Regions from separate parts of the Homo sapiens genome. Here region 2 is reported to be linked to region 1. The links are microRNA targets in miRTarBase. Many come from high-throughput screens and were not tested one by one. Region 1 holds a microRNA gene; the other region holds the end of a gene's coding sequence.

Evidence for each region. The annotated mature microRNA hsa-miR-323a-5p reads AGGUGGUCCGUGGCGCGUUCGC and lies in region 1 at 7,769-7,790, shown strand. An mRNA with a match to its seed (bases 2 to 7 or 8) in the 3' UTR can be bound and repressed. Matches are read on the target gene's strand: a 7mer-m8 pairs with bases 2 to 8, a 7mer-A1 pairs with bases 2 to 7 and ends in A, and an 8mer does both.
Region 2: the mRNA of SPINDOC is a reported target of hsa-miR-323a-5p. The part of its 3' UTR that is shown has no 7-base or 8-base seed match.

What each region holds. Positions count from the first base shown.
Region 1 is chr14:101,017,979-101,032,975 of GRCh38, forward strand. MIR323A (microRNA 323a) reads left to right here and starts at 7,754; the gene lies at 7,754-7,839. LOC124903407 (mucin-2-like) reads left to right here. Exons shown (of 5, transcript XM_047432049.1): 5 at 1,675-14,997. The coding sequence ends at 2,826. It overlaps MIR379 (microRNA 379), which reads left to right and starts at 4,088; the gene lies at 4,088-4,154. MIR411 (microRNA 411) reads left to right here and starts at 5,347; the gene lies at 5,347-5,442. It also overlaps MIR299, MIR380, MIR1197, MIR758, MIR329-1 and MIR329-2, and 3 more genes.
Region 2 is chr11:63,821,564-63,836,560 of GRCh38, reverse strand. It overlaps SPINDOC (spindlin interactor and repressor of chromatin binding), which reads right to left. Exons shown (of 6, transcript NM_138471.3): 6 at 8,845-9,633. The coding sequence ends at 9,422. It also overlaps the pseudogene ATP5MGP1. Among named protein-coding and RNA genes, the nearest start is that of MARK2, 10 kb to the left of the region's middle. RefSeq lists an enhancer at 3,395-4,214 and a silencer at 5,023-5,240.

The sequences.
Region 1 (14,997 bases):
TCCCAAACGCTAAGGAAGGTGTTGAGTTTTATCCCTGCCTTCTCTACTCACCATCCCCCCCAGTCCTGTGCCATGTGCTTTGGGGGGCACAAATGGCCTCTCTCTGCCTCTGTGGTCTGCCCCCCCGCAGTAGGTGGGGCTACTTACTGTTTCTGGACTATAGATCGTGTAGACCTTGAATCCTACCACTTCATGCACTCTGAATTAACTGATCAACGTCATGTGGGTTGAGTATCTGTTTTTCCCTTATCCAGCCTCTGAGCCCCTGGAAGGCAGGAGCACTGAGTCAGTCTCAGCCTCTGCGCAAGGCATGCTAGAAAATGCATCGATGGTTGAGTATCCGAGAGAGTACCTGAGCGAGCCAATGGGAGGATGCGTAGCTGAGGAGCGGATGACTCTGCGGAGGAGTGGGTTCTTCAGGGAGAGGGGTGTGTGCAGGAGTGGATGAATCTGTGCACCTTTGCAAGAAAGGATGGATGAGGGAGTGGAACAGTGACTGGGGTCTGGGGAGTGAGAAGGGTTGCCAGCCATCTGTGGTCAGCAGGAGCTTCCAGGCCCAAGTTTGGTGTGTTGGGAGGCTGGGTGAGAAGGTGGGTCCACCCACCTCTCTAGATACCCAAGAGGCTAGTGGGGACCCAGGCCAATTTCTCCAGGAGGACATGGATGCTTTTGGGGTCTATCTCTTGTACTCCTTCCTTCCTCACCATGCTGTGGCATGCACGGCCTGTGCTGGGAACTAGGGGTACAAAGCTGAGGCCAGCACAGCCCTTTCCTGCCCCAGAGGAGTTCCCATACCAAGGGGGGACCTGAGTGAGTTCCCCACCCGCCCCCCGACTGGAGCCTCCCCCTTGGCTCTTATGTTCTAGTCCCTTTATGTTTAGATACCTCAAGAATCCGCCTTAGCTCCCCTCACCTACCTGCCATCTTCTTGGCGGCTTCTCTGTATCTCACTTCTTTGTGGCTCCCAACCCCACCACTCCACCCAGAGAGCTAGGTACAGATCATCAGGGGCCTCCACCAACTGGCAACTCAGAATCTCCACTCGGATTTCTTGGTGGCACTTCAACTTCAGCACACTTAAAACTAAGTGTGCCCCGCCAGCACGTGGTCCTCATCTAGTGACCCCCAGCTCCAAGAGCGGCCCCACCCTCGGCCAGCTCCCAGGCCAGACACCCGCAGGGACATCCCATGTTTTCTCATGACCCACCATGCCTTGTCCACATCTGGGCTGTTGCCAAGTCTCTTGTGCTCTTCTTCCTAAATATTCGGAAACATGGCCGCTTTCCTGTCTCCATGACTCCTACCATCCTCTCTTTGGGGTTCTGTACTCTTTCTTCCTGCTCCTACTCCCAGCAACATCAGCCAGAGATTTCACATCAGCCAGAGAAATCTTGTAAAAATAGGAAGCTCGCGATGTCCTTTATCAGCTAATAATGGCTTCCCCTTAGCCTGAAGAGAAGTCGGAATTTTACCTTTGTTTTAAGGTCCTGAATGATCTGGTGCCACCCAGATCCTCAGACTCACTTCTGGCACATTTCTGGCTCCCCACGCTCAATTCACATGGATACTCTTTCGGTTGCAATGCTCCATCCAGACCACACTCCATCCAGTTCATACTCAATCCAGTCTACGCCCCATCCAGTCCACACCCCATCCAGTCCACACCCCATCTAGACCACACCCCATCTAGACCACACCCCATCTAGTCCACACCCCATCCAGGCCACACTCCATCCAGTCCACACCCCATCTAGACCACACCCCATCCAGTCCACACTGCACACAGTCCATGCCCCATCCAGACCACACCCCATCCAGTCCACACTGCATCCAGTCCATTCCCTGTCCAGACCACACCCCATCCAGTCCACACCCCATCCAGACCACACACCATCTAGTCCATGCCCCATCCAGACCACACACCATCTAGTCCATGCCCCATCCAGACCACACACCATCCAGACCACTACTCCATCCAGTCCTCACTGCATCCAGACCTCAGTCCATCTATCTAGTCCACACCTCACCCAGACCAATCTCCATCCAGTCCACACTCCATCCAGTCCACACCCCATCAAGATCACTACTCCATCCAGTCCACACTCCATCCTGTCTACACCCCATCCAGTCCACACCCCGTCCAGTCCACACCCTGTCCAGTACACACCCCATCCAGTCCACACCCCATCCAGACCACACCCCATCCAGTACACACCCCATCCAGTACACACCCCTTCTAGTCTACACTCCATCCAGACCACACCCCATTCAGTCCACGTTGCATCCAGTCCACACCCCATCCAGACCACACCTCACCCAGACCACACCCCATCCAGTCCACACCCCATCCAGTCCACACCCCATCCAGACCACACTGTATCCAGTCCACGCCCCATACAGACCATACCCCATCCAGACCACACCTCACCCAGACCATCCACGCCCCATCCAGACCATACCCCATCCAGACCACACCTCACCCAGACCACACCCCATCCAGTCACACTGCATCCAGTCCACACCCCATCCAGACCACTACTCCATCCAGACCACACCCCATGTAGTTCACACTCCCCCAAGTCAACACCCCATCCAGTCCATGTTCCATCCAGTTCATGCCCCACACAGACCACGCTCCATCCAATCCACGCCCCACCTCGACCACTACTCCATCCAGTTCATACTGCATCCAGTCCATACTCCATCCAGTCCACTGTCCACCCCGACCATGTTCATCTGACCCATGCTCCATCCAGTCCATGCTCCATCTGGTCCTCTGCTTTTACCCTACAGTGTCCACTCTTGTCCTCTCTCTTCTTGGCTTAGTCCCCTCATCCTTTATCTTCTAATCTAAACTTCTGAGAAGTTTTCCTGATTGGCGAGAGCCTCTTGTTAAATGCTCTCTGCTCCTTCACAACACTTTGGCCTCCTCACATTTTGAAACCAATTCTCTGCAATAACTACTTTAATGTTGGTTTTCCCCACAACGCTAGCAGCTGCAGGAAGGCAGAGACTGTGTCTTATTTACTGGTCTAGCTCCAGCACCTCACAGATGTTCAGTAAACACAAGTTTATTTCTACGAGTGACCACATGGAAAATGTGAGTGGGCTGGAGGAGAGGTGCAGGCAGGGTGCTGTGGAGGGTCAGGGATGCAAAGGCCTGAGTTGGCTGAGGTGGGGTCGGGCTCGTGGAAGAACTGCCATTTGGTTGGGCTTCAGAGAGATGTAAGCAGACACGGGGTCTGGGTGGAGGAGTAGTGCCAGCAAAGGCATGTGGACAATGCACGGGGTATGGAGGGTAATCTCTTAGACTAGACTAGCTCACACTTGGAGGGAGCAGGGGAGCATGATGCCTTGAATGACTTCCTAAGGAGTTAGGACTTCAACAACTGAGTTGCAGGGCCCCGTCTACACTGGGGTTCAGGACTTTAGAGGACAACCGAGCTGTCCTGCAGGGCTGCTGAGGGTTCTGCCCTTGTCCTTTCCCTGGAGGCTAACAAATCATTGCTTTGCATTCCATTCACATGGGATAGTTGTGCCATGAAAGGGGATGGAGAAAATCAAGGAAGACCTCCTGAAGGAGGTGGAGAGGTTAATCAGGAGCTGGAGGAACGCACTGCCCACTCAGCTCTGTGGTTTGAGTCTCCAAAGGTGGTCTAGAGCATGGCGAGGACCATCGGAACTTGGGTGAGCTAGGGAAGTTTTTACCTAGAGGTTGAGGGTCCCCTTTTATATGATGAACTGTGCTCTTGGAGTGTCCCATTTGCCATGCAGAACAAAACACTGCCCTTTATCTTGATGAAGAGATAGTTGACCACATAATGGCCAAAGCATGGTCAGTATTGTACATTTTGCCTTGTCGCAGTCTTTCCAAGTTGACATGGCCTTCCTGGAGGAATTACCACTTAGGGTAGAGGCACCCCTTCCCCCATCAATGCCACTGCCCCACATTGGAGGAGGGGTTGTTTATGTTCACCATGTGCCTGCTTCCAATGCCAAATCCAGCCTCAGAAAGCTTTCTGGAAGTGACGCCAACTTCAGGGGCAAGGCCCTGGTTCTGGGGTCAGCACCATTCCGTGGTTCCTGAAGAGATGGTAGACTATGGAACGTAGGCGTTATGATTTCTGACCTATGTAACATGGTCCACTAACTCTCAGTATCCAATCCATCCTCGGAGGGCTTCCTGGAGGTGTTGCCAACTTCAGGGAAGAGAACACGTGGTTTAGCTTCAGCACTGCTCCACGGCAATTTCTGTGGCTCATGGTTGATGTCTGACTTGTGCAACAAGGCCTGGCTCTTCTGGGCACTAAATGCACTCTCTGGGGAGTTTTCTGGAAGTGATGCAACTTGGGCTCAAGACACCGGTTCCAGCCTCAGCCGTGGTTCTGGAAGAGATGATTTGCCATGTGGCCTGTGCGAAAGGAGGGATTTGTGTGAGATGGGCTACCACTTCCCAGTAGCCTGCCAGCTTTGGAGGGCTTCGTGGAGCCAATACTACCTTCAGGGGGACCCACCAGTCCATCCTTCATTCCGCTGTGTGGCATTGAAGAGTTGCTTTCCTGTGTTGAAGTTTTCTGTTTATACCAATGTCCACCTCTGATCAATCTTACATTCAGTCTCAGGGTTTTCCGGAGGCAGTGCCAAGTCTGGGAATGAGACAGTGGTTCTGTCCTTAGGGAGGTGGTTGACCAAAACAACTCCTGCTTTGTTCATGAAGATGGCATGGTGGTTACTGCTCAGAATCTAATCCAACCTAAGAGGACCTCCTGGAAATGCCCTTGGTATTGAGGCAGATATGGCCTTAGGGCACTTTTTTTTTTTTTTTAATGCCCAAGACTAGAGCTCACTAATAGGTAAGATCTGGGCCTCAGGTGCCCAGTACTGTTTCCTTGGCCTGGTTAGTGTAACTAGATGGATGTTCTTTGGTTGCACGTGGGCCATTTTGTATTTCTGATTTTCTCCCCACTCCCCTAACCAGCTCTGTTAGCCATGTGCCATGTCCTCCCTCCCATCTACCCACTCCTTCAGACCCAGCACAGTGCGCCTGGCACACAGCAGGCACTTAATCAGTATTTATGGAGTGATGAAATCCATATCATCGTCCACTTCTTCTCAGTGGGACTTTCGGCCTCGAAGGGCTTCCTGGAGGAGTTGCCAGTTTTGGGGATGAGCCACTGCTTCGAGCATTCATGTCAACCCCCGACCATGAAGACGAGACTCCTGGCCTGTGTGTGCTTGTCGCATGATGCATGTGCTGTGCTCAACCTCCCTTCTGGTTCCACCCAGCTCAAGGCCTTGGAGGGCTTTCTGGATGTGTCCTGAGCCTTTGTCCTCGGCATCTCTGTGTGGTACTTGGAGAGATAGTAGACCGTATAGCGTACGCTTTATCTGTGACGTATGTAACACGGTCCACTAACCCTCAGTATCAAATCCATCCCCGAGGCTCCTGGAAACAACGCTGTCTTCGGGGAGGAACGGTTGGACCCACCACCACTTCTCCATGACACCCGAAGAGATGATTTTCTGTATGGCATGTGTTTTTCTGCATGATGCAAAATGGCATAATCTCGCTCCTCTTAAATCAAGTTCTGCCTTGGGAAATCGCGCCATCCCTGGGGAGGAGACCTTGATTCTTCCCGGAATCAGTGCCATTCCATGGTGCTCAATGACGTGGTTGACTACGCTACGCTTATTCAGTAGACACCGTGACCTGCTTCTTCTCAGCGTCAAATGCAGCCTAGAAGAAGCGCCCTCAGGCAACTTCGTGGACATGAGCCTTCTTCCAGCCACCACCACCACCATCGTGCGGTACTTGAAGAAATGGTTTACCGTCCCACATACATTTTGAATATGTATGTGGGATGGTAAACCGCTTCTTGGTATCCAGCCCAGCCATCCAAACCTCCCTGGAGAAAGCCTGGAGTTAGAGGAGAGCCACGGGTCTCGGCATCCGCCATGCCATGGCACTTGGTGGAATGGTAGACTCTTAGATGTGTGCTTTCTCTGTCAATGCTTGTGATGCGGTCTTCTCCTCAGTGCCAAACACAGCCTCCAGTGACTTCCTCAGGACAAGGATGACCTCCAGGAAGGTGTCCTACTGCCCACGTTGGCACATCCCTCTGGAGTAATTGAAGAAACGGTGGCTGGTGCCGCAAATGTTCATGAACGAGGGATGTGAAACAGGTCACCTCTCATCCTCAGAGCCCTCCTCAGATGACTTCAGGACAGTACGCCCATGTAGGAGCAGATATGGGTCCAGGAGATGATGCCACTCCAGGTACTTGAAGACGCACTGACTCGTTTTTGTCTTTGCTGATGCGTGTACAGTCTATCTTTTTTCCATCTCAAGTCTAGCCATCTCGGGGGAAGATGTCCCAGCTCTGGACTCAGCACTGATCCTCATGAAGAGCTGCTCGACCCCATCGTGTATGTTTACAGAGGAAGTGCCTCCATGGCCCACTTCTTCCCTATCTCCATCCCAGAACCCTTGCTTGGAGAACTTGCTGAAGAAGCTGCCAGCCTCAGGGACAGAGCACTGGTTCTGGCCTCTTCACTGACCTCACGGTACCTGAAAAGGGTTCAGCCACACTGCATGTCTTTTCCCCATGACGTATGTAACATGGTCTACTTCTTTTGAAGTATCCCATTCAGCCTGGAAAGTCTCCAGGGAGGTTATGTTAAGCTTAGGAGACAAAGCACCAGTTCTGGTACAAGTACTGCCTCGGGGTACTTAGTAGAAGTTGGCCATGCTTCATATGTTTTACTTACAACGCATGTTACTTCGTCCACCTTCCTATAACAGCGTGCACCTCGGGGGGCTTTCTGTAGGCAGGAACGAGTGTCAGTCATAGCACTAGTTCCAGCATCATCTCCATTCTTGAGGGGCTCCTTTGTGCTGCGTCCACTGCATCTGCGGCAGACATTGCATGGTGGCCTCTTCTCAATACTACATCAGGCCTCAGAGGGCTTCCTGGAGGTGATGCTAGTGAGAGGAAAGAGACACCGGCTCTGACCTCAGCCCTCTCCAAGGTACCTGAAAAGATGGTTGACCATAGAACATGCGCTATCTCTGTGTCGTATGTAATATGGTCCACATCTTCTCAATATCAAATTCAGTCATAGAGGGCTTCCCAGAGAGAGGCAAAGTCACCTTCGTGGGAGACACACTGATCTGGCTTCAGCGCCATTCCACAGTACTTGGAGAGATGGTAGAGCATAAAGCATATGCATTGTTGAATGACAGATGTAGCATGGTCCACTCATTCTCAGTATCAGCCAGCCCTGGGGCTTCCCGGAGGCCATGCCGACTTGAGAGCCAGGCCTGAGTGGTAGCCAGGGTGCAGTGCAGGTCACCGGGTGGTTGGCTGCAGACCCAGTCCTTTATTTATTACATTGGCCATTTGGTCCACCAGCCAAGAACTCAGTACCGGTCCCACCCTTACAGGGCATCCTGGAGGTGGTAGTGGCATTGGATGTGGGTTTGTGGTCATTGCCACATTGCCGGTGGCTGGTAGTTCATGATGCGCATTGTGAGGCTTTCTGGAGGTGATAGCAGGTGAAAGGAAGAGAGCCAGGGGTCAGCGTCACTTCCTGGTATTTGAAGATGCGGTTGACCATGGTGTGTACGCTTTATTTGTGACGTAGGACACATGGTCTACTTCTTCTCAATATCACATCTCGCCTTGGAAGACTTCCAGGAGGTGATATCAGCTTTGCGGAAGAGCCACTGTCCTGGTGTCAGTACGGCTGCTGCTTGGTACTTGGAGAGAGGTGGTCCGTGGCGCGTTCGCTTTATTTATGGCGCACATTACACGGTCGACCTCTTTGCAGTATCTAATCCCGCCTTGCAAGCTTTCCTGGAGCTAACATCAACTGCGGGGGTGGGGGCCACTAGGTCTGCGCTCAGTGTGACCCAGCGGGGTTTGTGATGTGTTTGTCTTGTGTGTGACGATAACTCACGTGTGGCAGCCTTCTTCTCAGCACACTGCTCTGGCTTGGCAGCAGGGTTAACTTGCGGACAAGGAGCGTGGTGTCAGCACGTGCCTGGATACATGAGATGGTTGACCAGAGAGCACACGCTTTATTTGTGCCGTTTGTGACCTGGTCCACTAACCCTCAGTATCTAATGCCCCCTTGGAGAACTTCCTGGAAGAGGTGTCAACTTTTTGGGAAAGAGACAGTAAACTGGGGCCAGCTGCACTCTGTTAGACTCTGAAGAGAGCATCTGCGAGGCGTTTGCGACATGTATGCCAAATGTGGCTGAGTTGGACTGATTTTCACTCCGATCTCTTTCCTTGGAGGGCTTCCTAGATGTGGAGGCATCCAAGTTCAAGGGAAGGGGCATGCTGTCTATACCATCCCAAAGTCCTCCAGTGATCAGCTGACCTGAGTGTATGCACTTTAATTTACAACCAAGGTCGCCTGGCCCGTCACACCTCAGTCTCCACTGGGTCCTTAGCAGGACCTTTGGTGGAGTCAGCCTTGCTTTGGGGCATCTGTGCCTCTCTTGAGTAACTGAGAAAAGATGGCCCTGGAGGTTAACCCTAAACGCGATAGCTGCTGTGACCAGCCTTTTTATGGCATCACCACCTCTGGCTGTGATGTCAACTTCCAGACGTGATGTGGGGTCTGCTCCACTGGGGTACTTGGATAGATGGTTGGCAAGCAGCATGCATCCAACTCTTGGCTTCTTCCGGCAAATCAACTAACTAACGCTCAGTGTGCAATTCCATATTTAACAGGACTTCCAGCACTGAATGTCAAGTCTGGGGAAGAATCAGTGGTGTTCTTGTCAGTGTTAATCAGTGGTACCTGAAGAGAGGTTTTCTGGGTTTCTGTTTCTTTAATGAGGACGAAACACACCTGGTTAACCTCTTTTCCAGTATCAAATCCCATCTTGGAGGCCTTCTGGTCCAGACCTCAGCTTCAGGGAAGGGCGTTACTCTCAGCTCCAGTCCACTGGACAGAAATCTATGGTTAACCACGAAGCCTGTGCTGTATTATTTTGACTGATGTCATCTGTTCTACTAACCCCAGTGTCCAATCCGTATTTAACAGGACTTCCAGGACTGAATGTCAAGTTTGGGGAAGGAATCAGTGGTGTTCTTGTCAGTGTTACTTGGTGGTACCTGAAGAGAGGTTTTCTGGGTTTCTGTTTCTTTATTGAGGACGAAACACACCTGGTTAACCTCTTTTCCAGTATCAAATCCCATCTTGGAGGCCTTCTGGTCCAGACCTCAGCTTCAGGGAAGGGGTGCTGTGGACATAAATAAGGAGACACGAGCAAATGGCTGATCACTAAGCGTGCCCCATGTTTCTGAATTTTGCCACCGATTGCGCTAACCCTCAATGTCTTATCCCTTCTTAGGAGGACTTTTCAATGTGATGGCAGCCTGGGGGAAGACAGTGTCACCACGACAGTGTCACGGAACATGCAGGTGAGTTGTCTGTGGTTGCCTTCGTTGTGCTCCCAACGGATCGTGTGTGTAATTCAGGCTCTTTCGGCATCTGACCCTGCTGTAGGGGGATGCCTCGTCCTTGCCACACTCAGTGATGGGCTTGAATGAGCCCAGCCCACAGCAGGGGAATGCCAGCATGCCCTGGACAGATAGTGCAGGTGTCCTGCACGCCTGCCCCTAGCCTGCAGTTTATTCTGAAAGGATGTCCTGGATATAATGACACCTTAGGGAAGAAAAGCTGATTCTGAGGTCAAGAGGAGACCTTGGGGGCCCTGGAATTGGCCCAGGTTGAGACCTGTTTATTTCTCACAGGAATTGTGGAGTTGACTTCCTTTAAATCTGGAGGAATCCTTGATGTCATGCCAGCTTGAAGGGAGGGCATTGTCACCAGCCCTGATCCAGGGGAAGGGAGTGGATGGCCCACCACGGGGCATGTACCTCCCCAGGAACACACCTGCTCCACTGACCAGCACATCTGACCTACCCTCAGGGTTGTGTTTCTGCAGATGGTCCTTCTTTGGGGTGCTCAAGGAGAGGTTTCCTTTGGCATATCTGTTTCTTTTATATAAATCATTTCTGTGGACCACTCTTCAGTATCAAACACCAGTTTGGAAGGCTTCCGGATAAGACAGTTGTCAGGCCCAGGCCAGGGTGAGTGGGCCGAGATGGGTGCTTCCCCTGTTCTAAGCGTCCTGTCTGGCAGTAATGCTTGGTGCCCGATCCTTTCCAGGAGGACTTCCTGGAGGTGATGCCAGCCTCTGGGGAAGGAAAAGGCTCCCTGCCAGCTCTAAAGCCAAGGCACAGAAGTAGGTTTTGCTGGTGCTGCATTTGTTTTGATGGCACTTAGCTGTGACTGTGGGTCCTCGGCTCATCTGTGGCATTTGGGGATGGGACTGTGAGGGAGGAGGGCCTCAGGTTCTGGAGAAGGGCCAGGTATTTCCATGTCAACCCTGCTTTTTATAACCAGAGAGAACATATGAGGTAGCACCAATGACCTCCGCCACCAATCCTTCCTATTAGCTGATACCCAAACACCGTTCCTTCCAGCCGAAAAGAGCCCTCATAAAGAGAGGGCAGAGAGAGTGTGTCAAGGCCATGTGACAGCAGGCAGTATGCTGTTGCCTCCGGGGTATCCAGGGTAGGCGGCTGCTGGGTCCATGTAGATTGGGTGCTCTGCTGGCTACGGAGGGGTCAAAGGACAGGTGGCAAGGGTGCAGAGCCGCAGCCTGGCCCTGGGATTTTCTTCTCAGACCTCTGCTCCGGGGTCCACCTTCGGGGGAAAAGAGGGCACAATTTTACAACTTTGTAAGAGGAAACCTGAAGTTTTCTGACCCCTGATTCTCCCCAGCCCTGTCAGGATTGATCTAACTCTCTGTTGAGATGCAAAAGAGTCTGGAGATAACAGTACTCCCCCCACCATGAAAACAATTATTGTCAAAGGAGTTTTATAGCAAACAGAAAATCCGGCCCAGAATTGGCTAAAACATTTGGGGAGCTCACATCAGGAAATGAGATTCGTTTTTATTTCTTGATTCTGCTGAATTGGATTGAAGGCAGCAGAAGGCATTAAGTGGGATTTGACCTGGAGGAAGGTGGCCTGGCGGTGCTCCTGGCTTCCCCGACCCTCCCTCCCTAGCCGTGTGTAGCAGGCACTCACTTTGCTTACAGCTTCCTCGGTGCCATGTATCTGTTTTTGGAATCACACCTTGCCTGGAAGGCTGCTTGGACCCATGGCCAGTGCCACACAGGGGCCTGGGCACCGGCTAACTGCAGACCCAGCCACCTGCTTCTTGACCACAGAATTCGAGATTTACTCATGAGCTCTCTTGACGCACTGACTTTGGGATGCAAACCATTATGACTAGGGGCACTTCCCGTGGCCTGGACTTCCACAAGGAAACCCTGGTTCCACCGTCAGGAAAGCTCCAATACCTGGAAAGAGGTTGTACCTAAAGTGTTCTCTGTATTGGCGGAAAATGTTTCCCGGGCAACCTCTTTTCATTGTGAAGGCTTGAAGAGCTTTTGGCTGACTTCCCAAAAGCAACCTGGGACACGCAAATAGAAGCCATCTGACGTCTGGTCTACCCAGTGCCATGTAGATTCGGGGAATCTTCCTGGAGGTGACACCAACATCGGCGAAGATTCGGCAGTTCTGTTTTGATTTTTTTTGTTTGTTTTTTGATCAGTGCTAATCTTCGATACTCGAAGGAGAGGTTGTCCGTGTTGTCTTCTCTTTATTTATGATGAAACATACACGGGAAACCTCTTTTTTAGTATCAAATCCCACCCTGGAGGCACTTCCTGTTCCTGATGCAGCCTTCAGGGAGGGACGTTGCCGGCTCCACTCTCGGTAGGCGCAAGCGAGGCTGACAGCGTGCCATGCGTCGTGGGGGTGTGGCTCTCAGGCCCCAGCCATGGAGGGCCCCTAGGAGGGGAAGCTGAGTTTGGAGAAGGGCCTGTGCTTCTGTGGTTGAAGGAGGTTGCTCATTGTGGTGTTTGTCTATTTGTTGATTCACGGTGGGTGGCGCCTCTTCAGTGTGAGATCTTGCTTGGATGGCCTTCTGGACACGCTAGCAACGTCATTGAAGGGACGATGGTGCCATCTGCTCTCCAGGGTAGCTGAGGGGATGGTAGACCGGTGACGTGCACTTCATTTACGATGTAGGTCACCCGTTTGACTATCCACCAGCGCCCGGTCCATCTGTGGGATGACATCTTGGTGCACATGGCAACTTCGGAGAAGATGTGGGAGGACGTGGGGCCCGTGGGACTCTGCAGGATTTTAGGAGGGGTTTCCCTTCGGGGCCCCCTCCTCCTACCTCGTTAAAATCAATATAAGCAATCATCAGTGAATAATCTCTCTTTTGGTTTCAAATCCTGCCCAGGAGGGCTGATAGTCTGGCCACAGACAATGCCAGGATTGCAGAGGCCTGGGCTTCAGTGCCCCATCAGGGAAAGTCCCACCCCACACCACATGCTGACTGCAGGAGGTGTGTGTGTGACCTGGTACAGGGGTGTGGTTTATCCTCGGAAGGGTTTGAGGAGTGTTGTGTGTGTGCAGGACAGGGCAGGCGTTGGGACAGCTGTGGTAGTGAGGGCCACTTTATTCTGTGCTACATGAAGAGAGGCTGTCTGACAAAGCTTGCCATGTGTTTGATGAATGCTACGTGGCCCATCTCTTTTCCATAGGAGGACTTCCTGGACATGAAGCTAGATTCCGGCAGGGCCACTGGTGTCAGCAGCACTCCTGGTGAGTCGTGGATGGGGGACTGAGGAGCTGGCAGCGTGATTGAGATGAGCCCTTCCTGTGTTGGGACCACTCAGAATCCAGCCGCTTCGTGGGCAGCGTTCAGTCCATGCTTGGGGAAAGGGCTTTGTTGCCGTTGCTCATCTCTGTCTGTTGTTCAGCTCTGCTTGCCTTACGAGGCCCCAGATGCCCTGGATGCCCTCAGTGTCAGACTGCGGAAGATGTGTCCCGGCTGTGACACGCGCTTCAGGGGAGGGCTGTTGGCGTCAGGTCCATGGAGAGGTATGGGAGTGGACATCTTGTCTGAGAGCAGACATTCTATTTCGGGTGTGTGTCTTGGTCCGTTCATCCTCAGTCTCCCTCCCATACCTAGGATGGCTTGTGGAGAGAAGGCCTGCCCTGAGGGCTGAAGTTGGGACCCACAGCTCTCACCCCGGCCTTGGTATGCTCCCATGGCTACGGCAGAGGCACAAGAAAGTAATTAGAAACGCAGAAACTCCTTAAGGCCAAGGCTGGGAACTGCTATATTTCTACCCACAGATCATTGACCAGAACAATTACACGGCCGAACCCAAGGCAAGGGGCGGGGAGGCCCACTCCACCCGGGAGGGGGTTGTGGTGAGGTGTGAATGCAGGAACCGGTGAGGATTTGCCACCACCAAGTCAGTTGTCCACGTGGACCACCTGAGAACTTGGGTTTTATTCATTGCTCATTCATCCCTCCCTAACCCGCAGCTTCCGGTCTGCCCCGGGGGCTCTTCTCCGGCTCAGGCTGATCGACAGTGGTGACGCTGTGCCAGGACCCCTGGTCATTCCATCTGTTTGAGGCAAATGTTAAAAAATCCCTTGCGCTACCCATTCTATGACGACTCCCTTGGCTCAGAGGCTCCATCAGGGCAGACACTTTGCTGTTTGTCCCTAAAGGGTGGGTGGTAGATCTCATCCATCTTATCTGGGGAGTTATTGTGACTCTCCTGGTCCCTCCTCATGTATCCTCAGGAGGACTTTTAGGATGCAAAATCACTGTTTCTGTGCCATTGTCATATTCTGTGCTACTGGAGGAGACTTTTTGTTATTGAGAAATTGAACACATCGTGCTCACAAGCAGCTCCAGGACACAATGCCACCTGTGCAGAGGGGGCAGACCTGTTAGATGTCTCCCAGGTCTTGAGGGGGTTGTATGCACGGCCATATCTTTGTCACCGGTTGCCCGGTGCGCATCAGGACCCATGTGCTCTCAGGAAGCCCGCAGGAGTGATACCAGCCGCGGAGAAGCAGTGTTGTCAACGGTGCTGACGTGCGGTACTTAATGAGAAGTTGCCCGTGTTTTTTTCGCTTTATTTGTGACGAAACATTCGCGGTGCACTTCTTTTTCAGTATCCTATTCTGCCTTGAAGACGTCTTGGTTTGGGTGCAACTTCAGGGAAGGCACATGGGCCCCTGTAGTGGACGCTGATCAGGACCTCCCTACCCCATGTCTTTTCTCCTTCCTAAATTTCTCCTTGTTTTTTTTTTTTTTTTTTTTTTTTATGAAAGCTCCCGTCTTCCCGCCGTGTGCTTTGATTGCATTGACCCTGCCCCACTTCCTCCACCAGCCCAGGCTTAAGCGAATCTCTTGATCTCTTCTCCTTTGCCACTGCAATTGCTTCCGGAATAGGCCCATGACCCCACTGGGCCAGTGATAGGCAAGGAGATGCTTGCTGCAGCTTCTGGGAAAGAAACTGTTTCTCCCTTTCCTGTGATAGCTGCCAGAGTAGACACTGTCTATTCCATTCAGCTGGGAATAGACAGTGAACTTTGACGTGAGCTTCGAAGGTCCCACAGCCGTTTAAGGACTGAGAGGAGAGGGCTTGGTGCCACGCAGACACAGCAGAGGGAGTCTGTACCATGAAAGGCATCTTGGAGACCTAGAGAAGAGCCTGGATGATATCATTTGAGTCCCTAGATCAAACCCTGCCTGAAGCTTGCTCTGTCTCTGTACTTTTTAGTTATATACGTCTATAAATCCCTTACTTGTTTAAGCCAGTTGGAGTTAGATCTTATCTTACTTGCAATACAAACAGATGATACCACAGTGTGTTTTCCAGTGTGACTGGGAAAGCCTGCATTTTTTTCAATGATGTGTTTCTCACGGTTTGCCTATCTATCTTCAGTGTCCTATTTAAGGCAGGGTTTTGGTGGAAGGTGACTTTTCTTATGGACTTATGCTTTCAAAGCTTTGTCTTAGTGATTTAATTTATGGTTGACAAATGATGCACAATTACCGTGTTTTGTGTCCAGCAATGGGTCACT
Region 2 (14,997 bases), not on the chromosome of region 1:
TTTTGCACTGTGCCCCACAAATTATGTAGCTGGTCCTGGCTGTAGGAAAAGCCTTTAGCCTGCATTTAAAACTTTGCTCAATCTGGCCTCACATTGCCTTACAATAACCTCTCCAACTATCACTGATCACACTTCTCCCTAACTCCTACCCCGCTGCCAGTCTCTCTCACTTCCATGCCTTTGGTCAAGCTGATAGATGATTGCCCATCATCCACCTCAGCTTCCAGAACCACTTCAAGATCCAGTTCAAATCTCACCTACTCAAATCCATGAACCCTCCTAGTTCTCCTCAAAGATGAATTATTGCCACACATTTACCCCCTCTCTAAATCTGCAAATTCATTTATTCATTCAGCAAATCCCTACTGAGCACCTACTATGTGCAAGGCATTGTTTTAGGCTTTTAGGTAGATCAGTGAACAAGATAAAGATCTCTGCCTGCCAGGCGCGGTGGCTCATGCCTGTAATCCCAGCACTTTGGGAGACCAAGGTGAGGGGATCATGTGAGGTCAGGAGTTCGAGACCAGCCTGGCCAACATGGTGGAACCCCGTCTCTACTAAAAAAAGCACACAAAAAATTAGCCAGGCACGGTGGTGGGCGTCTGTAATCCCAGCTACTTGGGAGGTGGAGTCGGGAGAATCGCTTGAAACCAGGAGGCAGAGGTTGCAGTGAGCCGAGATCACCACGCCACTGCACTCCAGCTTGGGCAACAAGAGAGAAACTCTGTCTCAAAACAAAACAAAACAAAACAAAAAAAAAACAACTCTGCCCTTGGGGAGCTTACTTTTCATTTTGAGGAAGACATACAACAAACAAAAGAGTCAGTATTAAGTGATATCAGAAAAAAACAGAGCCAGTTAAGCCAGGATTACAGGGGTGAGAGGGTGGAAGACAAGCTACAGTACTGAGGGGGTTCATGAGCCCTCACTGAGAAGGTGACACTTGAGTAAAATCTTGAAGGAGACCGGGCGTGGTGACTCACACCTGTAATCGCAGCACTTTGGGAGGCTAAGAAAAAAAAAAGACTTGAAGGAGGTGAAGGCATGAGCTCTGCAGACATCTAGGGGAAGAGGAACCCAGCCAGAGGAGCATACCTGGCCTGTTTGAAGAGCAAGGGGCCAATGAGCCTGGAGCAGAGTGAGTGAGGAGGTAGGTGTGTGGCGACGGGAACCAGGCCTGGTGGGCTACCGTTGTGGTTTTCCCTGGGAGTGGGATGAGTTGCCGCCGGAGTAACATGATCTAACTGGCTGCTGGGCTGAGAACAGAGTGAAAGGGCATGACAGAAGCAGACCCGGGGCACTAGCAAGGAGGCTTTTACAACAATTCAAGGGAGAGATGCCAGTGGCTTGGGGCCAGGCAGCAGCAGTGGAAGTAGTGAGAAGTGATCAGATTTGGGACATATTTGAAAGGTACAGCCAACAGGCTTTCGGATGGGTTGGGGTTATGAAAGAGGGGAGTTAAAGACGATTGCAGGCTTTCCCGCCTGAACAACTGAAAACAAAACACACACAGAGAGTAAAACTGCCGGGAGGTGTTGGCATTCAGCGGGCCCTTCGGGGCGACAGACTTTCCATCCTAGAACCATGACCTGATTTGTCCACCACCTCGCCAGAGAAGGCCCTGGTACTGGTGAACGCTGCTGTGACTCAGTTGAAGCCTTGATTGGCCACATTTCAGTACTACGCCGAGGTGGAGTTGGTTCCTCCAAACCCTGCTGAGATCCCTAGAGTTATTCAGGGCCTGGAAAAAAAAGTCAATAGCGCTCAAACTGGTAGCTTCAAACAGCTCACAGTCAAGGAAGCTGTGTTGAATGTTTCAGAGGTCACTGGGGTGTGGATGTGGTTTTATGTCACAGAGATCATAGGTGAGTGTGGCATCACTGGCTACAATGTTTGAAGATCCATCTTTAACATTTGATTTATATTTGATTTATGATTTGACTGTTCTTAGACCATATGTGATCAGACTACTATCTGAATAAAATGTGTCAAAAATTTTAAATTTAAAAACATTTCAAATTTTAAATTTATTTATTTACGTATTTATATATTTATTTTTTTGAGATGGAGTCTCCCTCTGTCTCCAGGCTGGAGTGCAGTGGTGCAATCTTAGCTCACTGCAACCTCCACCTCCAGGATTCAAGAGATTCTTCTGCCTCAGCCTCCTGAGTAGCTGGGACCACAGGCGTGCGCCACCACGCCTGGCCAATTTTTGTATTTTTAGTAGAGACGGGGTTTAATCATATTGGCCAGGCTGGTCTCAAACTCCTGACCTCATGATCTGCCCACCTCGGCCTCCCAAAGTGCTGGGATTACAGGCGTGAGCCATGGCACCTAGCCCTTTTCTTAAAAAAATTAAGGCCTGACCCGGCATGGTGACTCATGCCTATAATCTCTGCACTTTGAGAGGCTGAGGTGGGTGAATGAATTGCTTGAGCTAAAGAGTTCGAGAGCAGTCTGGGCAACATGGCAAACCCCCGTCTCTACAAAAAATACAAAAAATTTGCCAGTAGTCCCAGGTACTCAGGAGGCTGAGGTAGGAGGATTATACCTGAGCCTGGGAGGTCGAGGCTGCAGTGAGCTATGATCACACCACTGCACTCCAGCCTGGGCAACAGAGTGAGACCCTGTCTCTAAATATTAATAAATAAATAAAATAAAAGCCAGGTGTGATGGCTCACGCCTGTAATCCCAGCACTTTGGGAGGCCAAATTTGGTGGGGGGCATCCCTTGAGTCCAGGAGTTTGAGACCAGCCTGGGCAACATAGGGAGACCCCTGTTAGCTAGGCATGGTGGCACAACTGTAGTCCCAGCTACTTGGGAGGCTGAGGTGGGAGGATCACTTGAACCCAGGAGGTTGAGGTTGCAGTGAGCTATGATTGCACTACTGCACTCTAGCCTGGGCAACAGAGTAAGACCCCCTTTTCCCTTTTGTTTCTTTTTTCTTATTTTCTTTTTCCTTTTCTTTTCTTTTTAGATGGAGTCTTGCTCTTTCGCCCAGGCTGGAGTGCAGTGGCACCATCTCCACTCACTGCAACCTCTGCCTCTTGGGTTCAGGTGATTCTCCTGCCTCAGCCTCCCAAGCTGGCATTACAGGCGCCTGCCACCATGCCCAGCTAAGTTTTGTATTTTTAGTAGAGATGGGGTTTCACCATGTTGGCCAGGCTGGTCTTGAACTCCTGACCTCAGGTGATCCGCCTCCCCTTGGCCTCCCAAGATGCTGGGATTACAGGCGTGAGCCACCATGCCTGGCCAGAGCTGTTCCTTTACTAGCTCTGGAATGGCAGGCAAGTCACTGCATTCATCTCACTGTACCTCAGTTTCCTCACCTGTATAATGGGCACAATATGAGGTGATCTGTGATGAAGCCAGGGTAGGTGTCCTGTCTGTACCCCATAGTTTCTAACAGTGCCTGCCCATGGGGTCCTTCACTGATGCTTGTGTGATCTAAGCAACACAGGGTGGTTACCCCATCTCCCATCACACACCTGCTTTTCCTGCTTCCTCTGCCCACCCCCACCAGATGTGGGGCTGGAGGAGATCCAAGCCATTGACATTGGTGTTGGGAACCCAAAGGCTGGCTCCTCTTCCTTCCTGGACGCTGGTACATTTGTCCTGAGAATGAGGGTGTTCTCTCTAGGGGAGAAAGGGACTGAGCAAATTTGGTGGCATGATGGCTCTGGGCTGAGGCACCTGGCTCCAGGGAGGTAGGAAGGCAGACACCCCAGGAGGTGTTGCAGTCCCTTCCCTGTCCCTGCACCTGCAAGCAGCCTCAGTAGGGTGCCCCCCTCCCAAGAGACTCCGATGGCAGAGAGGGTCTGCAAGCCCATTAGAGACCCTCTCCCATCCCAGCCCCCATCTTCTACCACACCTTAGGGGTGTGCAGGATTTTACAGTTTACAAAGGGCCCCAAATGCAGAGTCTCATTTGAGCCACACAGCAGCCCAGCTGTGTGTGGGGTGGAGGTGGGGGTGACTGCCGCATTTTCTGCAGAGAAACAGGAAGCTCAGATTGCAGGAGCATCTGCTAGAAAGCCTCAAGGCCTGGACCAGACCAGTGCCACCACTGGGGTGCGGCAGGGGCCCAGCCAGTGTCCCCCATTCCCATTCACACTCCCACATGCTCCAGTTTCTCTTCAAGGAGGGCAGGGGTGACTGTTCCCTTGTCTCAGACTGGCTTTGTCCCCAAGAAAGAGAGGATTACCAGCATTGTGATATAAAAAGACATATATATCGGCCAGGCTTGGTGGCTCACACTTGTAATCCCAGCACTTTGGGAGGCCGAGGCGGGTGGATCACCTGAGGTCAGGAATTCAAGACCAGCCTTGGCAACACAGTGAAACCCCATCTCTACTAAAAATACAAAAAATTAGCTGGGCATGGTGGTGGCAAGCACCTGTAATCCCAGCTACTTGGGAGGCTGAGGCGGGAGAATTGCTTGAACCCTGGAGGTGGAGGTTGCAGTGAGCCGAGATTGTGCCACTGCAATCCAGCCTGGGCCTCAAGAGCGAGACCCTGTCTCAAAAAAAAAAAAAAAAAAAAAAAAAAAAAAAAGACACCTGGGCGCAGGTGGCTCACGCCTGTAATCCCAGAACTATGGGAGGCCGAGGCAGGAGTTATCACGAGGTCAGGAGTTCGAGACCAGTCTGGCCAAGAGAACAGCCTGGCCAATATGGTGAAACCCCCCCACCCCCGTCTCTACTAAAAATACAAAAATTAGCTGGGCGTGGTGGTAGGTGCCTGTAATCCCAGCTACTCAGGAAGCTGAAGCAGGAGAATCACTGGAACCCAGGAGGTGGAGCTTGCAGTGAGCCAAAGATCATGCCATTGCACTCCAGCGTGGGCGACAGAGCAAGATTACGACTCAAAAAGAAAAAAAAGAGACATATATATCTGGTCTTCATCCGGGTTTCTGGTCCAGAACTAAAACTCTTGGAATTTCCTGAGTGATGGGGAGAGAGGAGCATCTTTTGTTATTCATAATGAGTCTCTTTTCACCACACCTGAGTTCACGCTAATGAGATGACTCTTGGAGGATGGGGCTGGTGGCCAGAGAAACCAACCACGTGATTAGGGGATTGCAACTTTCATCCCTACCCAAGACCTTGGGGAGGGAAGAGGGGCTGGAGATTGAGCCAATCACCAGTGGCCAATGATTTAATCAATCGTGCCTAATGAAGCCTCTATAAAAACCCTAAATAATGGGGTTTGGGAGGTTCCAGGTCAGGGACAGCACCCCATCCACATGCCAGGAGGGTGGCTCACTCCAACTCCACTAGGACAGAAGCTCCTGTGCTTGGAACCCTTCTGAACCTCGCCCTCAGTACCTCATCACCTGTTTGTTTATATCCTATGTAACATCCTTTATAAACAAGTAAATGTAAGTAAATGTTTCCCTAATTTTTTTTTTTTTTTGACAGGGTCTCATTCTGTCACCCAGGTTGGAGGGCAATGGCGTGATCTCTGCTCACTGCAACTTCCACCTCCTGACTTGAAGTGATTCTCCTGCCTCAGCTTCTAGAGTAGCTGGGATTACAGGTACCCGCAACCACGCCCAGCTAATTGTTGTATTTTCAGTAGAGACGGGGTTTTGCCATGTTGGCCAGGCTGGTCTCGAACTCCTGATCTCAGTTGATCCACCCGCCTCGGCCTCCCACAGTGCTGGGATTACAGGCGTAAGTCACCGCGCCCGGCCTGTTTCTGTGATTTTTGTGAGCCATTACAGCAAATTATCAAAACTGAGGAGGGGGTTGTGGGAACTTCCAAATTTGGGCTGGTCAGAAGTACAGGTGACAAGCTGGGACCTAGAACTGGTATCTGAAGCAGGGGCAGTCTGCTGGGACTGAGCCCTTCACCTGCAGGGACCGTGCTAACTCTGGGTAGTGAGTGTCAGAACTGAATTTTAGAACAGCTGGCTGGTGTCTGGAGAGTCGGAGAATTGATGTGGGCGCCCCCCTCCCCACTAACATTGGTGTCAGAAGTACTGGGAATGTAGAAAGTTTTTCCTTGTTAGGTATCCAAAAAGATCTCCCACACCTGGATCCCATGGAAGGCAGCTGGGAGGGCAGGAGGTGGCTGGCTTCAGAGAGCCAAGGAGGTCTGGGAAGTCAGGAAATGGGTGTGTGGCTCAGCAGTCAGGGGCAGCGGCACCCTCTTCCCCAACTTCTTCAACCAAACACATGGTTGGGCCACAGCACCACATGGATGAAGGTGCCACCACCAGCCCTGAGAGTCACCGACATTCGTGCAGAGCTTCCCTGGTGTTGCACCAGGATGCAGGACCAGCGTCACGGACTCCAAGCCGGTGTGGAGTAGGAAAGCCCTGGGCAATCCGTCAGTAAGGTCCTTCCAGCCTGGGCTGGAGTCATATCCTCAGCCCCACTTTCTCCAACTCTTTCCTGGAAGCCCAGAGGTGCCACACACAGCTGCTGGCCACACACACTCACATAGTCCCCAGGGCCCTGGCTGAGGCTGGGGAGACCCCTATTGGCCACAATGTGGGGATGAAGTTCCCACCCTGCACAGTCACTGTAGCAACCACCCTGTGCTGAGAACCACACTCCAGGGACCAACATGCACTAGAAAAATGTCACACAGGAATACACACTCAGAGGGCACTCGAGAAACATTTATTGAGCACCTACTATGTGCCAGGCCCCAGGCAGGACACTTGGAAAACAAAGTCAATACAACCTGGTCCCTGCCCAGGAGCTCACAGTCTAGAAGGCCAAGCCATTAATCATAGAACAGCAAAGGGGCATTTGGCTTCACAATTTTACAACAAACTTTTACATACGTTTTCTCAAGTGTAAACACCCAGCAACACAGCCATGTTGTTTTAAAAGCACATTGGCATAAATGTAAACACAAGTCACAGGATTGAAAGGATGAGAGAAAACCATTTGCAGTATTTGTGCTTGCAGAACCAGATTTTTAGCATTATTTATTCCCTCCTATCAGGTAGGATACAAGTTTTGCCAATCTGTGGATAATGGTGTTTGAGACATGGGAGTTCCGTGGCCGGCCTGCCTGCCTGCCATCATGCAGTGGGGGAGCCACACTAGATACAAGGCATCCTGAAGCCTTGGCCACTGCCTTCTGTCCACCACACCTGTCTTTTAATGTCCCCTAGACAAAGACCCTGTATATTTCTAGGCTCCTCCTGAGCTTATCAGATGGGGAGAAGGGATCATGTCCCAGGAGCCCACCAAGTCGTGAGATCCCTCATACCTGGCTTGGCACATGGTGACACCCCATCAGGTGAGCACACAGCACACGCTGCCCAGGCCCAGACCCTGCCTGCCCGAGATGAACTTCCTGGTTAGTCTCAAAATCTGGCAGTGTTGGCCGGGCACAGTGGCTCACGCCTGTAATCCCAGCACTTTGCGAGGTCGAGGTGGGTGGATCACCTGAGGTCAGGAGTTTGAGACCAGCCTGGCCAACATGACGAAAACCCCATCTCTACCAAAAAATACAAAAATTAGCCAGGCATGGTGGTGCACGCCTGTAATCCCAGCTACTCGGGAGGCTGAGGCAGGAGAATCGCTTGAACCTGGGAAGCAGAGGTTGCAGTGAGCCAAGATCGCAGCCTGGGTGACAGAGCAAGACTCCAACTCAAAAAAAAAAAAAAAAATGTGCCAATGTCAGCGTCCTACAGGAATAGCTGCCCTCCAAGTCCCACCTGTGCCCCCACTTCTCCTATGTGCACATTTGTCAGCATGTGCAGAGGTATACAGTCCTGCTTACCACACCTGCCATGGGCTCTAAACAGGACAGTACAGCTGGGGTTTGAGAAGGGGCTGCCTGTGTGCTCCATCTCACCAAAGGGAAAACCACGCACAGATCTGGCCCCTGTTGGTTTAGTTTAGGAAGGTAAGGAATCCGGTGAAGAGACCAAAAGTGGCCTCCTCATGATCCAGGGAATAGGGGAAACCAGCAAGTGTTTGGGTTTAATTAAGCCAAGGGTTGGGGGGGATGAAGGTGGACAGCTGAGGGTGCAGGCCTGTAGGGCTGGAAAAGGCGGGGCTGAGTTTAGGACCCCTGTGCCCCTCACCATCATACGGAAAGGGAGGAGAGGCATCTTTCTACCTGCAAGCTGGTTACCGCCATTTCACTTTAGAAAGCTCAGGATAAGCCGGGCGTGGTGGCTCACGCCTGTAATCCCAGCACTTTGGGAGGCTGAGGCAGGTGGGTCGCCCGAGGTCAGGAGTTCGAGGCCAGCCTGACCATCATAGTGAAACTCTGTCTCTACTAAAAATACAAAAAATTAGCTGGGCATGGGCATGGTGGTGGGTGCCTGTAATCCCAGCTACTAGGGAGGCTGAGGCAGGAGAATCACTTGAACCCAGGAGGTGGAGGTTGCAGTGAGCCGAGATCGCGCCACTGCACTCCAGCCTGGGCAGCAAGAATGAAACTCTGTCTCAAAAAAAAAAAAAAAAAAAAAAAAAGAAGAAAAGAAAAAGCAAGCAAGCAAGCAAGCAAGCTCAGGCTAATTCCCAGCTCCCTGGTTGTGAGCACCCCTGGGCTTCTACAGTGACCTCTTTTGGGCAGAGGCCTACCAGGTGAGCCAGAAGGTACAATGTTAAAGAAAATTGTTTCTGACCCCCTTTCCAGAGCAGAGAGGAAGGGAGGGGGTGAGACGCCCACAGGTGACTGATAGCACAAGTCAGCCCTCGTTCCTGGGCTCCACAGAGGCCTGCCCTGGTGCTGTCCCACCTTCAGGAGAGGTGGCTCCCTGGCTCCCCCCAGGACCATCTTCCAACCCTCCTGCCCCTCAGGGTTGCTCTAGGTGGCCAGGTATCCTGCTAGCAAACCCTCTCCCCCAATGATGGCCCAGACGGAACTCTTAATAAAAAAAAATAATTTATTGTCAACAAAGGTGATATATACAACAGGAAAACAGATGTAAATGAGAACGGGAGTGAATGGGGTGCCCAGGCCCAGCTTCAGGCCTCTGCAGGGGTGGGACAGGAAGAGGTAATGGAGGCCTCCTGGTTTAGAAGCCTGAACAAGTGGGGAGGAGAGGTGTCCCCCGAGGTAGTGGGACTCAGTTCAAACCCCCTTATGACCACTCTTGTGTAAGGCACTGTGCCAAGGGAGAATGGTGGGGAGCAGGGGGAGGGTGGGAGGAGGTCATGGGGGACAAACAGAGGTGGGGGTCAGCGAAGGACTGGGGTAGGTGTTCTCCACAGGCCCAGTGCCCTACTGCACAACAGCCTCAGCCACCCTCGCCGACCTCAGGCCTGGCCAGGAACAGACACTTTCCAGTGCCCCGAAATAACAGTGGATGCTGCCCCAGCCCCCTCCTGCCCTGGCACCTGTTTCTACTCTCTCCACCAGGTGGGTGAGCCAGGCAGCTCTGAGTTATAAGCCACTGGGGGACGCTGCCTCATCCCTCCCTCCCTCCCCAGGAAAGCAAGAATTTACACTCCATTCCCTTTTTCCGGCTTCCCTGCCACAGTGGTGCTGGATTCTGACAGAACTGTGGGCCAGTCTGAGGTGTCACCTGCTCCCACACGCTTGGTGCCCTGGGGGTGCCTGGACCAGTCTTGCAGGAGGCTGACCGCTGGGGGCTCCTCCATCCGCACGCGGATAACCTGGAGATCCAGTGTCCCGCGGAGCCCCGGAGGGGGAGCTGGGCAGGGATGAGAGCAGAGAGCAGTCAGAGCCCCCCAGACACCCCACCACGAGGATGCCCCCTGGAAGCTCCGCAAACTGTACCCACATTTCCAGGGCTTTCATTATGTCCACAGCCCAGTGCCTGGCATGAGGGGAAGCCCAAGGATGGCAGGGAGCTCCACTCCTGGGTGATCGAGGACTGCTGCCAGCTAGAAAATGAGGCGCACAGCCTCCCTAGGGACAAGCCAGCTGAAGCCAGGCAGCCTTCCTCCTGTGTGTATTTTGGCACAGGGACGCCTGGTGCTCGTGCCTCTTCCTGTAACTCCTACCTGCAGCCAACTCCATTTTATCTCAAACTTACTGGGCATCCTAGCCTAACGGGTTCTGCCTGAGTGGGGCAGAGGTGATGGGGTGGGAACACCCAGAAGCAGTCTAAGGCATAGCTGTGCCCACCAAGGAGCTCATGAGGGACTACGTGGGGGACAGAAAAGACCCCTGGCGAACTTCCACCAGGCTCTTTATCTCCTGAGTGTCAACACCTACATCACCAAGACCAGGTGTCCACCTTACCAGTATGGAGAAGGCACTCATAATGGGCAAAGCTGGGCCTCGAGGCAGAGGAAAGAGGACTGAGGACTGCCGTGGCTGCGTGCAGCCATAAAAAACGAGCACGCAACAGGGACGTGTGCAAAGGTTACGTTACATTAGGGCTGGGCATGATGGCTCATGCCTGTAATCCCAGCACTTTGGGAGGCCAGGGTGAGCAGATCACTTGAGGTCAGGAGTTTGAGACCAGCCTGGCTAACATGGAGAACCCCTTTACTAAAATACAAAGAAATTAGGCAGGCATAGTGGTGCACCCCTCTAATCCCAGCTACTCAGGAGGCTGAGGCGGGAGAGTCGCGTGAACCTGGGAGGTGGAGGTTGCAGTGAGCCAAGATCACGCCACTGCACTCCAGCCTGGGCAATAGAGTGAGACTGTCTCAAAAAAAAAAAAAGTTACATTACATTGAAAGGCAAAAACAGAAGATGGTGATTTCAACTACTGCACTGTCTATATTGGGAAGGATTTATTTGTGTGTGTTCCTTTTCTACCCTGTTTTTAGAGACACGATTATTTAAAATGTGGCACAGAAAACAGGTACAATTTTGCTGTGCGATGTGCTGGAATTTAAAATGACTTAGTGGCTGCCACCCCATTTTTATCACCTACCAAATGCTATTCTGTGTTCCCAGAACACAGTTTGTCTCCCTGATAAACTATAGGCTCCCTGAAGGAACACTGAACCCCATTTGTTCATTAATTTGACAATAATTTATTGAGTACTATATGCCCAATGCCGTTTGGATTGCTAGGGGTACAGCGGTGAATGGAGCTCCCTAAGTGGCCTTCTGGGACTTCACATTCTATTTATCAGAGCTAATAAATAGGATAAACAAATAAAAAATGCAGTATGTTATATATGGACAGATGCAAAGTAGCAAAGTACACCAGGGAAAGGAGATAGGATAATAGGATAGCAGAAAGCTGACAGGGGACCACAGACACAGAGGGAGTGAGGAGCCAGTGAGGCAGACAGGGAGGGAACAGCATTTTGAGCAGAGGGAGGAGCAAATGTGGATGCCCTGGTGGAGCACGCTGGCTTCCCCAGGAACAGCAAGGCCAGTGCCTGTGCGGGGAGCGGGATGTGGGGGGAGAGGTCAGGAGCCTGTGGGGAGCTCACTAGTCACCATGAAGGCTCTGGCTTTTATCTGGAGTGCAACAGGAGCAGCACAGAAAGGCCATGAGTAGAGGAGTGACTGGATCTGACTTGTGTTCTCAGCAGGGACACTCTGGCTGCTACAGGAGAGCAGAGCATAGCGGGCAAAGCTCAGCAGCCAGGAGACCTGGCTTAGGTTTGTTACAGGAACCAGGCGAGAGCCGGCCCTGACTAGGGTAGCAGCAGTGGATGTGGTGACAGCAGTGTGAGCTCTGAACTTGTTTTGGAGGATCGGCTGCTGGACAGATGCTGGGCTGGAGAAAGAAGAGGATGACTGTGTGGGTGTGGTCACAGCAAACTGAAGCCTGGGGCTGCCTGTTCACTGGGAAAGGGAAGATTGTGGAGTCTAGGGGTAGGGTGCATTGGTGAGACTGGGGGTTCAGTTTCAATGTGGCGAGTTTGAGATTTTTTTTTTTTTTTGAGATGGAGTCTCGCTCTGTCGCCAGGCTGGAGTGCGGTGGCACAATGTTTGAGATCTTTTAGACACCCATGTAGAGACGCCACCTGGGCAACTGGAAAAGAGGATGGAACCAGGAAGGAGCAGCCAAGGTGGGCATTATGAGCACACACATGTCATTGAAAGCTGTGAACCTGGATGAGATCTCCCAGGGAGCGAGTACCGACACTGACCCACGGCTGCGGATACTTAAGCACGTACTCATTCACCAAACACATAAGCCGGGCCTACGCTGTGCCAGGCACTGTTCTGGTTACCGCAGATATTATAGTGCAGGACGCAAACACCCTAACCTGCAGGCCCTTACATTCTAGAAAGGGAAAGGCAGACAATGATACGACGTGTTCCAACTCTGGGAGCTGAGAGTGAGCGGCAAGAGAAACTGAGAAGGAACAGTTAGTGAGGGAAGAGGAACACCAGGCGAGCAGCTGCCTGAAAAGCCAAGGGAAGAAAGTTGTCTCCAGGAAGGAGTGAGTGATCAGCCCACCGTAACCACGAGATCATAAAGAGAAGGACCGGCCAGGTGCAGTGGCTCATGCCTGTAATCCCAGCACTTTGGGAGGCCGAGGTGGGCGGATCACCCGAGGTCAGGAGTTTGAGACTAGCCTGGCCAATAGGGTGAGACGCCATCTCTACTAATAATACAAAAAAATTAGCCAGGCGTGGTGGCGCACGCCTGTAATCCCAGCTACTCAGGAGGCTGAGGAAGGAGAATCGCTTGAACTTGGGAGGCGGAGGTTGCAGTGAGCCAAGATTGCACCACTGCACTCCAGCCTGGGCGACAAGAGCAAAACTCCATCTCCAAAAAAAAAAAAGAAAAAGAAAAACAGGCCAGGTGCAGTGGCTCACGCCTGTAATCCCAGCATTTTGGGAGGTTGAGGCGGGCAGATCACGAGGTCAGGAGATCGAGACCATCCTGGCTAACACAGTGAAACCCCGTCTCTACTAAAAATACAAAAAATTAGCCAGGTGTGGTGGTGGGCGCCTGTAGTCCCAGCTCCTTGGGAGGCTGAGGCAGAAGAATGGTGTGAACCTGGGAGGAGGCGGAGCTTGCAGTGAGCCAAGATCACGCCACTGCACTCCAGCCTGGGCGACAGAGCGAGACTCCATCTCCAAAATAAAAAAAAGAAAAACACCAGCAAGACAGAGAGGCTCCTCTTTCCATTACTTGTCAGTGGGTCATTGTGGCCCACCTCCTCTCCTGGCCTGCACACTCTCCCCATCCTCCTCTGGCAAGGTCCTCAGAAGGTTCTAGAGTCTTCCTGGACTACCTCACATTCACATTCATCAGCTCAGCTAACCTGACCACAGGTGGCCTTTTCCAACTGTTAAATCCACGATTTTTACACCTCTAATTTTTTTTAAAGTGGCAGGATCTTTATTTAAATAAAGTCTTCAGAGAACTTCAATACGTACATAACAACACAGAAAGTAGAGACATTTTGGTCGAAGCCTCACAGGTTTCTGAGAAATCTGTCCAAGCTTTGGGTTCGTGAGATCGTCTGAAACCACAGGTCCAGAGCCTCTGCTCCGCAAAGAACCGCCACGGGGGCCCCTGGTTTTTAAAGATTTACTGCCTCCAGCCTATATACCTGGACACAGAATTTTGGGGGACAAAGGCTGTCTCACTCATGCCATCTCCCAGGGTGCCTCCCTCGGGCACAGGCTCCAGGAACACTTGTGTACCAGTGAGGTATCCTCTATGGTTTCCCAGGCATCTCCAACCTCCACGAAGGCTGCCACTGCTGACAACACCCTACAATTGCCTCCGCCCCCTCAGATCACTCAAGCAGCCTGCTGAAGCCCCTTCCTCTCAGACTTTGCCCACTCACCCCAAAGAAACCTAGAATCTCAGGGATTCTCTTCTCATCTACTCACCACTCCAGATAGATGGAGTTTGCGCACAGGGTACCCCAGGACTTGAAATGAGGGCTCCCTTTCGAGAATGAAATCAGAAGACCCATTAGACAGTGGAAGAGGTCAGCCATTTAGAGCAGGGATCCACCGGAGAGGACCAGGAGACTCGGGACACGCTCAAGTCCAAGCAGCACACTCGGTCTCAGGGAGCCAGGACTGGAATGTGACTCAAGCTGAAACTTGAGACAGTTAAAACTGTGATCTACGTGAAGGGGTGAGGCCTGCCTCGAGATCAGAAAACGGGGGGCTCAAATTTAGGCAAATAAACAAAAGCAACTACACACACACGCAAACACACAGAGAGCTCTCTCTGAAGGATACAAACCAAATTAAGAGTGGTATAGCAGTGAACACAAAGAAAAACTTTGTGAGGGGTGAGTGGAGTGTGACTAAAGGAGTACATAATACGCTGCCTTTTTTCTTTGTTTCTTTTTTTTTTTTTTTTTTTTTTTTAGACAGTCTAGCTCAGTTGCCCAGGCTGGAGTACAGTAGTACAATCTGATTGGAGTACAATCAGAATTTACTGCAACCTCAAATTCTTGGGCTCAAGTGATCCTCTTGCCTTAGCCTCTAGTCTTAGTAGGGACTAGAGGTGCACACCAACATGCCCAGTTAATTTAAAAAATTTTTCTAGAGATGGAGTCTCCTTATGTTGCTCAGGTTGGTCTCGAACACCTAGCCTCAGGCAATCTTCCCACTTTGGCATCCTAAAGTGCTGGGAATGACAGGTCTGTGAGCCACTGTGCCTAGCCAAGGCTTTTTTCTTTATGCAAAAAAGCACACCTGTCATCCCAGAACTTTGGGAGGCCCAGGTGGGAGGACTGCTTGCACCCAGGAGTTGGAGACTAGCTTGGGCAACACAGTGAAAACCTGTCTCTACAAAAAATTTAAGAATTAGCCTGGTGTGGAGATGCACACCTGTGGTCCCAGCTACTCAGGAGGCTGTGGCAGGAGGACTGCTTGAGCCTGGGAGTTTGAGGTTGCAGTGAGCTATGATGGCGCCATGGTACTCCAGCCTGGGCAGGGACTCTGTCTCAAAAAACAAAAACAAAAGCACACCTGCTTTTTGAGAGCCCTACTCTCAGGAGAGCCTCCAGCCACCTCGTTGGCCATCATTCTATGGCTCTAGTTTCAAACACACATTTCAGACAAGTTGGTACAAGGAGACGTGCACTCCTACCTATTCACTTCTTCAAGAAGCATTTCCTGAGCGCCTGTAAACTATGCTTGGCATGGAGAGGTGAAC